Linked DNA regions of Homo sapiens: region 2 is linked to region 1. A link means that fine-mapping ties the variant in region 1 to the expression of a gene that starts in the linked region. Tissue or cell type: sun-exposed skin. Region 1 holds a variant in brackets; the other region holds the start of a gene. All regions are shown on one strand. Distances are between the middles of the regions.

The links. PIP is the estimated chance that this variant, and not a neighbour inherited with it, causes the effect.
Region 2: it holds the start of PATJ, and the variant in region 1 is fine-mapped to the expression of PATJ in sun-exposed skin (GTEx, PIP above 0.99).

Annotation. Positions count from the first base shown.
Region 1 is chr1:62,117,634-62,125,898 of GRCh38, reverse strand. PATJ (PATJ crumbs cell polarity complex component) reads right to left here. Exons shown (of 44, transcript NM_001350145.3): 38 at 4,604-4,718; 39 at 2,841-2,878. Among named protein-coding and RNA genes, the nearest start is that of MIR3116-2, 43 kb to the right of the region's middle. The variant T/C (reference allele first, on the strand shown) is at 3,201.
Region 2 is chr1:61,738,156-61,746,155 of GRCh38, reverse strand. It overlaps PATJ (PATJ crumbs cell polarity complex component), which reads right to left and starts at 3,676. Exons shown (of 44, transcript NM_001350145.3): 1 at 3,601-3,676. It overlaps PATJ-DT (PATJ divergent transcript), which reads left to right and starts at 3,372. Exons shown (of 1, transcript NR_185910.1): 1 at 3,372-4,158. RefSeq lists a silencer at 3,215-3,924.

The DNA of each region.
Region 1 (8,265 bases):
ACCTGGGAGGCTGAGGGAGGAGAATGACTTGAACCTGGGAGGTGGAGGTTTCAGTGAGCCGAGATTGCACCACTGCACTCCAGCCTGGGTAACAGAGTGAGACTCTGTCTCAGGAAAAAAAAAGAAAGAAATTTATGCTTGGATCACGTGTGGTAGAATAGGGTAGGTAGGAGCAGGCTTTATTACAAAAGCCTGTAAAAACAAGTGGCTGAAATGACTAAGGAAATATAAAAGAATATTATTTTTGAAATCTTAGAGGAGAAATTTATGCAATAATGTTTTGGCTTTGTTTAAATCCATCATGATGTTTCCTTAATTTATCTATAATTATATATACTGTTGGTACATTTAACTTCCCCATCATAGGAACATTTGAGTTGCTACTCTGGTGGAAAAATACCGGGAACAAATAAGGCAGATTTAGTCAAAGCTGTAGCTAATAACAACAGAAGCCACTTCCTGGGCATTCCTGATGCACTAGGTGCTATGCTAAAGACATTACATTCATGACCTCATGTAATCCACACAATAATATTTACCTTTGAGGTGAGTTAGTGTTATCACCCCCATTCTACAGATGAGAAAATTGAGGTTGAGTTGCTAACTATTATAGAGCTAATGGCGTTTTTTTTTTGTTTTTTTTTGTTTTTTTTTTTTTTTTTGAGACAGGGTTTTACTCTGTCACCCAGGCTGGAGTGCAGTGGCATGATCACGGCTCACTGCAGCCTCAACCTCCTGAGCTCAAGCGATCTTCCCACTTCAGCCTCCCAAATAGCTGGGAGCTGGAACCACAGGCATGCACCACCACGCCTGTCTAATTTTAAAAGAAATTATTTGTAGAGACGGAGTTTCCCCATGTTGCCCAGGCTGGTCTCAAACTCCTGGGCTCAGTGATCCTCCCACCTCGGCCTCCCACAATGCTGGGATTACAGGTATGAGCCACCGCACCCAGCTGTACAGCTAATGTACAGGCTGAATTGGGTCCCCCTAAGATTCACATGTTGAAGCCCCAAGTACCAGGGCCTCAGAATGTGACTGTATTTGGAGATAGGGCCTTTAAAATGAGGCCAGGGTGTGCCCTAGTCCAATGTGACTGGTGTCCTTATAAGAAAAGATTAGGACATAGGAGAGACACCAGGGATGATGAGTGACACACAAAAAAGGCCACGTGTGGCTACAGCAAGAAAGTGGACATCTGCAAGCCAAGGAGGGGGGCCTCAGGAAAAGTCAAACCTGCAGACACCTTCATCTTGGATCTAGCCTTCAGAACTGTGAGAAAATAAATTCCCACTGTTTAAGCCACCCAGTCTGTGGTGTTTTATAACTGCAGATCTAGCAAACTAATGCAGCTAATAAATGGTAGAATGCCTTCAAACAGAGGTATCATTAAATCTAGAGAAGTAAGTTATGCTGGATATCACTTTACTGCAGTGGATTACCATGATTACAACAGGGTCATTATTTCTTCTTGAACCCCTCATTTAGGTCAAAGTGAGCAAAATAAAAGTCTACTTTTGGCCGGGCCTGGTGGCTCATGCCTGTAATCCTAGCACTTCAGAAGGCTGAGGTGGTCGGATCGATTGAGGGCAGGAGTTCGAGACCAGCCAGGCCAACATGGAGAAACTGTGTCTCTACAAAAAATACAAAAATTAGCCGGGCGTGGTGGTGTGTGCCTGTAGTCTCAGCTACTTGGGAGGCTGAGGCACGAGAATTACTTGAACCCAGGAGGTGGAGGTTGCAGTGAGTTGAGATTGCACCACTGCATTCCAGCCTGGGCAACACGGTGACTCCATCTCAAAAAGAAAAAGAAAAAGAAAAAAAGAGTCTACTTTCATTAGATATCATCACACAGGAGTCTGAAAATCAGGGTTCGACAAATTTATGAATGAAATACATCTTATATAATCTTCTCAAAAGGGAAATTTAGCAACATGTATAAAAGCCTCTAATAACAAGCTTGGCTTTTGACCCCCAAGTTTCATTTCTAGGAATTAATCCTGAGGAAGTTACTCATGATTTGGGCAAAAATATAAAGATGTTTTACTATAAAAGATAGCAAAAATTGAGAAATATGCTAATTGTTCAATAATAGGAAACTGGTTAAGAAACTTATAGCACATTTGGCCGGGCACGGTGCCTCACGCCTGTAATCCCAGCACTTTGGGAGGCCAAGGCAGGTGGATCACGAGGTCAGGAGATCGAGACCATCCTGGCTAACACGGTGAAAACCCGTCTCTACTAAAAATACAAAAAATTAGCTGGGCGTGGTGGCAGGCGCCTGTAGTCCCAGGTACTCGGGATGCTGAGGCAGGAGAATGGCATGAACCCAGGAGGTGGAGCTTGCAGTGAGCCGAGATCGCACCAGTGCACTCTAGCCTGGGTGACAGAGCAAGACTCTGTCTCAAAAAAAAAAAAAAAAAAAAAAAAAAGAAACTTATAGCACATTCATAAGATGGAGTACTATGAAATCGATAAAAATCATACTATATGCTCTCAAAAAATACTTATTTAGTATGTGCCACATGATACCATTTTTGTTTTATAAAACTTTACATGTACAGGTTAAAAGACTAAGATTGAAAAAATAAATAAATAAAAATAAAACTTACACATAGCACAGAATATAGTGGATGAGATTTGCCAAAAAATTCATAGAGGTCATCTCTGTGCTCTACTGTACTTTTCTAAGTCTATTTATTGATGTTATTTAGACCATATTTTTATCTCAGTAACTTGAAAGAGCACACTCACAATCCAATAAACTGTATTGGGGAAAATGTACATTTAGTGCAAATCCAACACAAACCAGAAAAATACATACAGCAAAATGACTGACTTACCCTGTTTATCTCAACAGTCCTTGGTTCCATATCTGTGCCTATAAAGAAGCAACACAATTAACTTTTTAATATTAAAAAATAATATATTTAGCATATAATATTGCCCCATGAAAAATGGTTTCATTTTCTAGGTCTTTCAAGAGAAGACACTAAAGCAAGCAGGTATTGTACCCTTCCTCAGCATCCAAGCTGGTAGCCAAGTCACCAGGGGCCATGTCCTCTTTTTTTTTTTTTTGACACAGAGTCTCGCTTTGTCACCCAGGCTGGAGTGCAGTGGCACCATCTCAGCTCACTGCAACCTCTGCCTCCCAGATTCAAGCAATTCTTCTGCCTCTGCCTCCAAATAGCTGGGATTACAGG[T/C]GCCTGCCACCACGCCCGGCTAATTTTTGTATTTTTAGTAGAGACGGGGTTTCACCATGTTGGCCAGGCTGGTCTCAAACTCTCGACCTCAAGTGATCCACCTGCCTCGGCCTCCCAAAGTGTTGGGATTACAGGCGTGAGCCACCGTGCCCGGCCTGCTGTGTCCTCTATTTTAAAGAAGTGCTCTCTGTTTGAGATCAATGTGGCCATAACCATTTGGTCTGACAAAAGTGGATGGGCTATATAGCAGCAGCTGCCTGGAACATGGTGAGTAAATGCTTGGAGGATGACTCATTTTTGTGTGTGTGTGTGGTTTTTTTTTTTTTTTTTTTTTTAGATGGAGTCTCACTCTGTCGCCCAGGCTGGAGTGCAGTGGTCCGATCTTAGCTCACTGCCATCTCTGCCTCTTGGGTTCAAGCGATTCTCCTGCCTCAGCCTCCCAAGTAGCTGGGATTATAGGCATGTGCCACCATGCCCGGCTAATTTTTGTATTTTTAGTACAGGCGAGGTTTCTCCATGTTGGCCAGGCTGCTCTCAAACTCCTGACCTCAGGTGATCCGCCTGCCTTGGCCTCCCAAAGTGCTAAGATTACAGGCATGAGCCACCGGGCCCGGCTGAGTCATTTGTGTTTCATTGTACATTTTTTTCTACCTTAATCAAAGATAACCCTCCATTCAACAAAAGACTTAAAAGGACCCCTTGTCCCACCCTGCCCCCAAGGATATACACACTTTTTTTTTTCTTTTAACTGGCCCAATTTTCCCATAGAAGGTATACACACTTCTGACCTTTCTCCAGTGACCTGTAATTTATTAATTTTCTCTTTGTAAGTAATTTTATTTTACCATGCACTCCAGCTTTCTGCTTTTCTGTTTTTCAGGTGCTTTGTGTTGTGCCACTGAAGGAATTTCTTTTTTTTTTTCTGGAGACGGAGTCTTGCTCTGTCACCCAGGCTGGAGTGCAGTGGCACGATCTTGGCTCACTGCAACCTCCACCACCCCCGCCAGTTTCAAGCAATTCTCCTGCCTCAGCCTCCTGAGTAGCTGGGACTACAGGCGTATGCCACCACGCCCGGCTAATTTTTTTTTGTATTTTAATAGAGACGGGGTTTCACGGGGTTAGCCAGGATGGTCTCGATCTCCTGACCTCAGGTGATCCGCCCGCCACAGCCGTCCCAAAGTGCTGGGATTACAGGTGTGAGCCACCATGCCTGGCCACCACTGAAGGAATCTCTATGGCTTTCCTACCTTCAGAACATGCCTTTCAGAAAGCTCAGCTTATGTGGCCAAGCTCAAAAAATTAAAAAACATTTATATTAAAGAAGACTGGTTTTTAAAAAACACATTTTTTTTTTTTAATTTGGGTAACAGGATAGTTTTGCTCTGGGTGTGTCCGTGTAATACCTGAATTTTTCTGGGAAGGATCTGAAACTCTTTTTGTGCCAACCAGGTTTTGCAGGCCAGTGATGACAGGAGCGAAGGAGGGATGACAGCTGCTGTGTGCACTCTGCTGACTACCCTGAAAGAAAGACCCAGGGGTCACCTGTGTGCAGACACTGACTTGACCCCCTAAATGCATACTTATCCATTAGTGTGCCAATTACTGATGTCACCATAACCATCTAACAGAAAATCGTGAGGAGGCCAGGAAAGAAAACAAAAATCACCCACACTATTCTCTTACTACCTCAACCCAATCCCATTTAGACATTTCCTCCATTGCTTTCTCCATTATGTGTGCTTTTGTATATGGTTTCAATCACCAAGGTGGAGACCATAGAATCATTTCAGCTGTTCTTGCTCCACATAAAATCAAAACCATTTTCCTAGGTTGCCACATAGTGTTTATGTATATATAGTCAGCTAATGGGCACTATGTTTCATTTGGGGTTACAGTCAACTTTATTACCCAAAATGTATTATGTATTTTGCTAAAACAAGTATAATAAGACCTTGATTAGCAGAAACCTGCCAAAATAGAACCCTCAATTGTGGGGAAAAAAGCACCAAATCTGAAGGGAAAAAGACTTGTTTTAGGGATATATAACATTTTTTTCTCAAAGATTTTCCTAGAATCAGTAATAATTTAGTCCAATCTGCTAGATCTCCATTACCTGTCCCTTTATTCATTTAAATGAATATGTGAGGTTAATACTGTGTAGTCTTTTAAGGCTAGTGGCTGTTCAACAAAAACTGTATACATAGTGAAGGGCCTTTCTTATGTAGACGAAAACATTGCAAATAATGAATATTTTTTTCTACCAAATTATTCTGCATCAAAATTTTAAGCTAAGCCTAAGATCACTGTTATCAGTTCATAAATTATAATTTGGTCCATTTTCTTAACTCTATGATGAAAGTTGTTTAATATTTTAATTCCTAAAATATGAAAACCTTCAAATATATAGAAAAGCTGAAAGAATTATACAATAGACATCCATATAAATAGCACCTAGATTTCACAATGAGTATTTTGCTATATTTCCTTTATCACATAGCCATTTATCTATTCATCACTCATCTTTTTTTAAAAAATTCATTTCAAAGTAAGTTGTAGATCTCAGTATACTTCATAGTGGCTATATACATTTAAAGGAGTGTTTTTATACTTTTCCTTAAAGGATATGATTTAAGTAAATGGTACTATAATAGATAACTAATCAGAACTGAGGAAGTACAGTATATTATAACTTTTGCCTTTAAAAAATTTCAGAAAGGTGTGTTTGCCAAGACCTTTATTGCATTGTATTGTAATTTTTGAGGAGTCTCCCTCTGTCACCCAGGCTGTAGTGCAGTGGTGCAATTTCAGCTCACTGCAACCTCCGCCTCCCAGGTTCAAGTGATTCTGTTGCCTCAGCCTCCTGAGTAGCTGGGGTTACAGGAGCCCACCACTATGCCCAGCTAATTTTTGTATTTTTAGTAGAGACAGGGTTTCACCAGGCTCTTTGGCCAGGCTGGTCTTGAATTCCTGCCCTCAAGTGATCTGCCCGCCTCGAACTCCCAGTGCTGGGATTACAGATGTGAGCCACCACGCCCGGCCCCAAGACGTTTATAAAAGTACACTTTGCCTGACTGTGTTCCCTTAGTTGGCTGAGGAAAAGATCTCGCAAGTATTTTTTCCTCTGTGGAGTAAGGAAATTTCTTCCTGGTTTGGGGGAAAGTCATTTTAAAAAAAGACACTTGGTGGCCCCAAAGCTAGAAGTTATTTCTCTCTTAATGAACTCACTTTCTATGAATTAAGTCAAGAGCTTATTCTCCTTAGCGCTCAAAAGAAGGCATTGATCTCCCTATTTTGTAACTGCTCAGAAGGAAATCTGTGTTCCTACAAGATCCTGATTTTTTAAATGGGTCTGGATGTAAAAATGTTTGGCAATGGAATCTTGTTTTTGCCCACCAGGGTCAGTCTTCAACTCATCATGATGGGAAGACATTTCCTTTTCACAGTCGGCTACCAGCCTTCTTCTAATTAGCCAAATAGGGCAAACTCTTCTATCTCACCCATAATTTTAAGCACAAGGTGATGATAAGATATATTTACTGTTTTTAAAAATTGAATTAAACTCCTACCCTCTGAAATTAAAATTCTGTGTAAGAAGATTAGGGCAAAGTATTTGATACTTTGTCCCAGGTTTCCAAAATATGACAACTCACATTCATATACCAGGTAAGTGGAGACGATAGGTTTTTTTTTTTTTTGATATTTAATGATGTAGCTTCTAAATTTGGTAGTTCTGTCTTTGAGTGTGAACTTAAAAATTATGAAGATGCGGCTGGGCGCGGGGGCTCACACCTGTCATCCAGGCACTTTGGGAGGCCGAGGTGGGTGGATCACCTGAGATCAGGAGTTTGAGACCAGCCTGACCAAGATGTTTTGAAACCCCGTGTCTACTAAAAATACAAAAATTAGCCGGATGTGGTGGCGGGCACCTGTAGTCCCAGCTACTCGAGAGGCTGAGGCAGGAGACTCACTTGAACCCGGGAGGCGAAGATTACAGTGAGCTGAGATCGCGCCATTGCACTCCAACCTGGGCAACAGAGTGGGACTCCGTCTCAAAAATAAATAAATAAATAAATAAGAAGATGCTCACATACATCTCTCAAGAGGGACAGAAATCCATTTCTATCCACTACCTTACCTATCGATCAGTCCAAACTTTTCTTAAATCACACAAACACCTGTTACCTCTTTGTGCCTTTGTGTATGCTATTTTCCCTGTCTGAGATGCCTTTTCCTTCTTTTCCCCAAACTCCATTTGGAGTGAGATTCAATGGAACCTCCTCTGTGTAGCTTCATTCTAATCTTCTGTATACAATAAGGCTTTAATGAAATCATTCAACAAAGATGAGTCTTCCATTAAGGAAGAAGCCTGGCTAGACAACTGTTTCGTTTGTTGATATAAGTCTGGTCAATATCATCACTAACTATTAACTCATGGAATCCTACAGCAGCACCATGTCTTAGATATTTGCTGCCCATTATGTAAGCCAGAAATGAAAAAAAAAAAAAGTGTTTCAAACTTAATATGGTGTTTATTGGGTTTGACTGCTTTGAAGATTCCCTAAGACAAGCCAGCTAGTCTGTAATCCTATCTGAACAATGGTATTTTCCTCACTCATTTTTTAACACCAGTGAGGAACAGGAGGCAGCTAATAGCTTTCCAGAAGTAACTGTGTGCTAACTGTAAGATCAGAGCACCTTCTGAACAAAGGCCTTGGAGAGGCTTCAGAAATAAGGCAACCAGGGAGGGGACCAAAAGTCATGCTTTTAACCTCAAAACTAAGGCGGCCTATCCATAACCCAGAGAGGAGACTTAGGGGTCACATATAAGTTTCTATAGTCTCATTATGTACCACATGGGGCTAACCATACAGTCTACCATCTTGATTTTGTCAGCCATTACAATGAAAAAAATATAGTGAAATATACTTTGCTAAAAAAAAATGGCACTTACATCAGCTTTGCAAATAAATATAAGATGTTTGCTAACCCACAAAATATCACCCACTAAGCCCTCCCTCCCACAGGAAAAACCCCCACACTTGGTTCTCCTAGGAATATGCCATTA
Region 2 (8,000 bases), 380 kb after region 1:
AGCCTGGCCAACATGGCAAAACCCTGTCTCTACTAAAAATACAAAATATATATATATATATTACCCAGTGGTGGTGGCGCACACCTGAGGTTGTGACGCTGAGCCAGGACAATCGCTTGAACCCAGGGAGGTGAAGTTTGCAGTGGGTGGAGATCGCGGCACTGCACTTCAGCCTGGGCAACAGAGTAAGGCTCTGTCTCAAAAATAAATAAATAAAATAAATGAATAAAAATTTTTAAAAAAAAAAATAATTGCCAGGCCCGGTGGTTCACGCCTGTAATCCCAGCACTTTGGGAGTCCAAGGCGGGTGGATCGCCTGAGGTCAGGAGTTCGAGACCAGCCTGGCCAGCATGGTGAAACCCCATCTCTACTAAAAATATAAAAATTAGACAGGTGTGGTGGCAGGCGCCTGTAATCCCAGCTACTTGGGAAGCTGAGGCAAGAGAAGCGCTTGACCCTGGGAGGCAGAGGTTGTAGTGAGCCAAGACAGCGCCATTGCACTCCAGCCTGGGCAACAGAGCAAGACTCCGTCTCCAAATAAATAAATTAATTAATTAAAATAAAATAAAGTAAAATAATTTTGGCTAGGTGCAGTGACTCACGCCTGTAATCCCAGCACTTTGGGAGGCCAAGACAGGTGGATCACTTGAGGTCAGGAGTTCGAGACCAGCCTGGCCAATATGGTAAAACCCTGTCTCTACTAAAAATACAAAAATTAGCCAGGTATGGTGGCACATGTCTGTAATCCCAGCTACTCAGGAGTCTGAGGCAGGACAATCACTTGAACCCGGGAAGTGGAGGTTGCAGTGAGCTGAGATCACCCACTGCACTCCAGCCTGGGCAGCGGAGCAAGACTCTGTCTCAAAATAAATAAATAAATAAATATTTAAAAAAATTATCTGATCTCCCTTGTCTGATTGTAGGTCATAAGACCCCCATAAGAAGGGGTCCTGCCCATACCCTGGAGGAAGGAATGCTACAGAGAGAGGCCAAGAAAAATCTGAACAGATAGGCATTGCTGGGTTTCCCTACCCCATGCTTCAATTATGTCTACTCAATGAAGTCTCCATAAAAAGCCCAAGAAGATGGGGTAGGGAGAGCTTCTCAATATCTGAACACATGGAGGTTCCTGGAGGGTGGCATGCCCCTTCTCATACCTCACCCTGTGCATCTCTTCCTCTTGTATCCTCTGTAATATTCTTAATAATAAACTAGTAATAAACCTAAATAAGTGTTTTCTTGAGTTCCGTGAGCTGCTCTAGCAAGTTAACCAACCCAGAGGAGGGAGTTATGGGATTCCCAATTTATAGGTGGTTAGTCAGAAGCCGGGGTAAAACAATCTAGGACTTGTGATTGGCATCAGAAGTGAGGGCAGTCTTATGGGATCTGACACTATCCCCAGGTAAATAGTTTCAGAATCGAACTGTTAGATGCTCAGCTATTGCTTGATGCAGAACTGATGGGCCCACACATTTATTTGGTCACAGAAGTCCTCAGTGTTGACTGTAGTGGTGTGAGAGCAGAGGAAAAAGTTTGTGTTTTTTCTCTTACTCCTAATAGGATCTGGACTAGTAAGGGCAAATCTCTTCAGAACTCATTTTATAAGTTCTATCCATAAGTATTTCCATATTTATTAACTTTGTTATTATCTTTGTGAAAGTTGCAGATACCAGGTCAAAATCACTTTTTGTCAAACCCAAACAAACTAGAGAGCCTGAGGGAGAAAGCTCATGCTTGCAAGTCTGAGATAAAGATCGGTCTCAAGAAGGAACTAAAATAACCACCCAAGAAATTCTTTCTTTAGGAATGCAGTAATTCAGATAAGATAAGATAAGATAATCTTTTTTCCTTTTTTTTTTTTTTTTTTTTTTGAGACAGGGTTCTTGCTCTGTCACCCAGGCTGGAGTGTAGTGGTGCAAACACCACTCACCACAGCCTCCATCTCCTGGGCTCAAGCAATTCCCCTGCCTCAACCTCCCGACACACCTGACTATTTAAAAAGCTTTTTCTGTAAAGACAGCCATGTTGCTCAGGCTGGTCTCCAACTCTTGGCCTCAAGCGATCCTCCTGCCTAAGCCTCCTAAGTAGCTGAGATAACAGGCATGAGGCAGGTTGCCAGGCCTGATAAGATGCTCTCCATAACACCTGCCCAGTAATGGCATCTTCAACAATGGCCAACTCTGGCTTTCAGTCTGCAAAACCAATAAACTCTGTTTTCACGCAGCTTATCTGCACTTACTTTGCCAATAAAAGTTTCCTTTTACCCTCCCCTCTTCCATGCATATATGGCTTGCCAGGCCTGTGCACCTCGGGCTATAACGCTCATTTCTCATTCCCAAATAAATTCAACACATTTGGAGTGTTTTGTTGTTGTTGTTATTGTTAACATCTTAAAGGCCATTAGGGGCCCTAAAAACATCAAAGCTCACTTTAGCTAAAAGGCTCAATCTCACCTAACATTTTCTAATGCTGCAAACAGATTTAAGTTTTTAACCGCTGCCCCTGCCTCCACTCCTTTCAAATAGATGTGTGCAAATTAATTTGCAGCCAATAGGAATTTAGCCCAGAATGTGGTAGTATCATCCTCAGTGGAACCGACATTGTCCTTCTGGGTTTCCAAAGGCTTCTGCCTTCCTTTAAGAAACACTTGTCGCGCACCTACCAATAGCCAGACCCTAAATGCAGTCGAAAAATAAGGCCCTGAAAGGGGCACCCTCTAAATGGCAGAGGCAAGCCAGTAAACAACCAACTGGAATTCAAAGTGACAAGAGCCACTTGGAAATATGACAAAGTGCCAAGTGAAGGGGTGTTCACTTAATTCGGCCTGCGTGCGGGACGGCTGGGGCGCTTTGGAGAGTGGGAGTGATCTGAAAATGCTTTCCTGAGCTTGATTTAAAAGCAGGAGTCCAGGAATTTCCCCTAAGGCTGGAAGCACTTTCCGACAGAACCTCCCCATCTACGCAGCAAGGCTGGCAGAGCCCAGGGCCTGACCGCTGGCTTGGGAACCTCCGCTACGGGATGACCAGGCGCCGCGACGCGGCCGGGCCCAAGTCGCCCCCTCAGCCCGGCTCTGAGCACCCCCTCCTCTTTGTCCCCTCACCCCGTTCCCTCCTTCCACGGCCACCGATGGAGGGAAAGACTCCGCCCAGCTCTGGGAGCGAAACAGGGGCACCGATCTGGGCGCAAAATAGGATCCGTGCCACCCCCGAATACCAGTGGGCCGAGATTCGAGGCCCGAAAGGCCTGGGGAGGCGGGGCGGCGCCCCTCCCTGCCCGCGGCCTCGGCGAGCCCTGCGCGGCGGGGCGGGGACCACCGTGGGGTCACCCGGGCCCGACGCAGGAGGACGGCGCCCCCGCCCCGCCTCCCGGGTCAGCGCGGACGCACGCCGCGGGCGCCCCATCCTCGCCGCGGCCCCTCTGAGCGCCCGGCGGCGCCCTCCACCTCCGGCTCCCACCCACTCCAGGCGGGCGGGCGGGGAGAGCGCGGGGGCAGGGCAGGCAGGCCCGGGAAGCCCCGAGGGAGCTGCCCCCGGCCGGCCTCCAGGCGCGGGGACACCCAGGGGCGAGCGCGCACTGCACAGCCGGGACCTCACGCTTTACCTGGTGCGCTGGAGGAGCAGGTGGGAGCCCGGGTCGGGCGGGCTCGGTGTCGGCCCTGCCTCACCTGGGCGGAAGTGAGAGGCCCAGGGTGACCGCGCCTCACCTGGCAGGCCCTCCCCTCGCCCCGACTCTCCCCGCCCGGGGCGGGGCACCGGGGTGGCGCAGGGGGCGGGGGAGGGAGCCCGGGGCCGCGGGAGGCGGGCTCCAAGGAGGGAGGACGGTTGCCCTGGCTGTTTACGTGCAGGTGAATTCCTACCGGGCGCGGGATGGCCAAGGGCCTGGGAAAAGTGGGCTGTGGGGGCGGGGTGGCGGATCAGACCGCGCGTGGTGGGGACAGCCGCCACTGACGGGGAGGGAGATCCGGACAGACCGGTGTGGTTGGAGGCCTGCGTGTAGAGCGAGACCCAAGATCAAGGAAATTGAGGAGGATATCGATGAAAGCGTTGGGTCAATCCGCTTAACACTTTGTCTTTTTGCCCCTTTCCTTTCCTGTTCTCTCATCCCTCCTTTGTTTTCTCTATTCGCTGACGCAAAATAAAATATTCTAAAACGTGTAAATGTGGGAGTCATTATTTTCTTCTCATTTAGTGGAAGAAAGAAATCCAGCAGTATTTGCCTGCTGTATGCTAGGTGCTAGCTTATGCAATGTCTCATTTACTCTCTGAAGAAACTAATGAGGAAACCGTGCACCCTGTAGGTTGACTGGCCCAAAGTTTGGAACACAGGCAAGGCATTTTGACTCTAACTACAGTGATGATTTCACTATACGTTAATTTTCTTTTATTTGTGATGTCACACCTTCGAGAAAAATATGTCCCGATAGCCTTCTTCCACTCCCTTTAATAACTTTAGGCTTTTGATGATAGGGGTTTTACTTTGCCTGATACAGTCCACACATTAACGATAAAGAGAATCAATCTTCAGGTATCTTATTCATAGAGTACATACAGTAATTGTTAAACACTGTGATTGATTGTGGGAAGATGTGTAAAATGGTATCCCTGTCCCCAGGAAGATGAGGAATAGATACAAAACAACTACAACATAAAGACTTTCAGGCGGGGCGCGGTGGCTCACGCTTGTAATCCCAGTACTTTGGAAGGCCGAGGCGGGTGGATCACCCGAGGTCAGGAGTTCGAGACCAGCCTGACCAATATGATGAAACCCCGTCTCTACTACAAATACAAAAATTAGCCGGGTGTGGTGGATGCGTAGTCCCCTCTACGCAGGAGGCTGAGGCAGGAGAATCACTTGAACCCAGGAGGCAGAGGTTGCAGTGAGCCAAGATCCTGCCACTGCACTCCAGCCTGGGTGACAGAGAGAGACCCCGCCTCAAAAACAACAACAACAACAACAACAACAATTAGCCCGGAGTGGTGCCGTGAGCTTGTAGTCCCAGCTACTCTGTGGGGCTGAAGTCGGAGGATCACTTGAGCCCAGGGGTTCAAGACCAGCCTGGGCGACAGAGCAAGACTCCATCTCAAATAAATAAATAAATAAATAAAATTAAGATCATGCACTTGGTGCTTTGTAGTTTGCTTCCTTGTTTTAAAAGAAATGTAACACTTGTTAGTCATGGTAAGAAGACACACAATATCAGCATGGTTTCTGCTTTTTAGGAACTAACAAACTACTGAGGGAAATAACAGGCAAATTGCCAGATGGAAGCCAGACCTCAGAAAATGAAGAGATCTATTATGTTTTTTGAAAGCATGGGTTAGAACTTAAACAGGTCTTAACCAGAGTCTGAGATTAATTTAGGTAAAATGGAGAAGGAAAGGCTTTCCAAGTCGGGGGCAAAATAAAGTTGGAGATTGAGTGGGAAAAGGGAGAGGATTGAAAAACTACCTATCAGGTACTATACTTATTGCCTGGGTGATGAAATAATCTGTATATCAAACCCCATGGCCTACAATTTGTCTATGTAACAAACCTGGTTTTTTTGTTGTTGTTGTTGTTTTGAGACAGAGTCTCGCTCTGTTGCCCAGGCTGGAGTGCAGTGGCACAGTCAGCTCACTGCAACCTCTGCCTCCCTGTTCAAGCCATTCTCCTGCCTCAGCCTCCTGAGTAGCTGGGATTACAGGTGCCAGCCACCACACCCGGCTAATTTTTTGTATTTTTAGTAGACATGGGGTTTCACCACGTTGGCCAGGCTGGTCTCAAACTCCTGACCTCGTGATCCACCCGCCTCAGCCTCCAAAAGTGCTGGGATTACAGGCGTGAGCCACTGCACCTGGCCTACAAACCTGTGCATGTAGCTCTGAACCTATAATAAAAATTAAATAGGAAAAAAAAGAAAGGTGGAGACCAATTATCTCAAAGAATCACCTTGCAAACATTGGTCTCTTCTTTTTAAATTTATTTTTATTTATTTATTTTTTAAATTGAAATTGAATCTCACTATGTTACCTAGGCTGGCCTCAAACTCCTGGACTCAAGCAATCCTTCCACCTTAATATCCTTCTTGAAAAGCTGAGATTATAGGCACCACCACTACACCTGGCTATTGCACCTCTTCTTTATTTATTTATTGTAGAGAGATGGTCTCACTATGTTGCCCAAGCTACTCTCAAACTCCTGGCCTCAAGCCATCCTCCTGCCTCAGCCTCCCAAAGTGCTGGGATTACAGGCATGAGCCACCATGCCTGGCCTCCTCTTATTTTATTTTGTATTTATTTAATTAATTAATTTTTTTTGAGACAAGGTCTCACTCTGTCACCCAGGCTGGTGCACAGTGGTGCAATCATGGCAGCCTCAAATTCCTAGGCTCAAGCGATCCTCCCACTGCAGCCTCCCGAGTAGCTGGGACTATAGGCATGCACCATCATGACTGGCTTATTTATTTATTTAGACAGAGTCTCGCTGTTGTTGGCCCTACCCTGGAGTGCAACTGGAACCTCCGCCTCCCAGGTTCCAGCAATTCTCCTGCCTCAGCCTCCTGAGTAGCTGAGATTACAGGCGCCCGCCACCACACCTGGCTAATTTTTGTATTTTTAGTAGAAATGGGTTTCACCATGTTGGCCAGGCTAGTCTCAAACTCCTAACCTCAGGTGATCCACCCACCTCGGCCACCCAAAGTGCTGGGATAACAGGCATGAGCCACCACACCCAGCCTGCCTCTTCTTACTTTAATATTAAATGATGTTGTGAACATATTCCCCTATTTTCAAAAAGCTATGTAACTTTAAGTTGACCATGAAACCAAGTCCAAACTCCTTTTCTTGCTATTCAAGGCCCTTCAAACTCTCCCCTGCTTGCTGACTCTTTTCTTTTCTTTTTTTTTTTTTTTGAGACAAAGTCTCGCATTCCAGGCTGGAGTGCTATGGCGTGATCTCAGCTCACTGCAACCTCCACCTCCCGGGGTCAAGCGATTCTCCTGCCTCAGCCTCCTGAGTAGCTGGGATTACAGGCGCCTGCCACCACACCTGGCTAATTTTTGTATTTTTAGTAGAGACGGGGTTTCACCATGTTGGCCAGGCTGGTCTCAGACTCCTGACCTCAGGTAATCTGCCTGCCTTGGCCTCCCCAAAGTGCTGGGATTACAGGCGTGAGCCACTGTGCCCGGCCCCTTCTTGCTGACTCTTCAACCTAATCTCCACTTCACCTCTGGAGGATCTTACTCTGAGCAAATTTATCTATTCCATATCCATGGAACACCAATGGCTTTTCTGTTCGTTACCTACCCACTTTCCCCTGCCTGGAATGTTCTGTAAGCCCTACCCTCCTTCTAGGGCTAGACTCAAGTCTAACCCCTTCTGAAAAGCTGCCTCCCTGGCCACCCCAGGAAACATCATCTCTATCAGTTTTAACCTGATTTTCTCTACATTTCTGTGCTGTTAATTAATTTTACCTCACCAACCACCCTTCTTCCTTTGTGTTGTTAATTAACTAATTAATTTTTTCAGGCCAGGTGTAGTGACTCATGAATGTAATCCCAGCACTTTGGGAGGCCGAGGCGGGTATATCACCGGAGGTCAGGAGTTCAAGACCAGCCTGATCAACGTGGGGAAAACCCACTAAAAATACAATAATAACCCAGGCGTGGTGGCACACACCTGTAGTCCCAGCTACTCAGGAGGCTGAGGCAGGAGAATTGCTTGAACCCAAGAGGCGGAGGTTGCAGTGAGCCGAGATCATGCCACTGCACTCCTGCCTGGGCAACAGAGCAAGACTCCATCTCAAAAAAAAAAAAGAAAAATAAATAAATAATTGAGACAGGGTCCCACTCTGTTGTCCAGGCTGGAGAGCAGTGGTGAGATCATAACTCACTGCAGCCTTGAACTCCTGGGCCCAAGCCATTCCCCCATGTTAGCCTCCTGAGAAGCTGGGACTACAAACATGCACCACCATGCCCAGCTAATTTTTTAAATTTTTTATATTTAGAGACAAGGCCTCTCTAT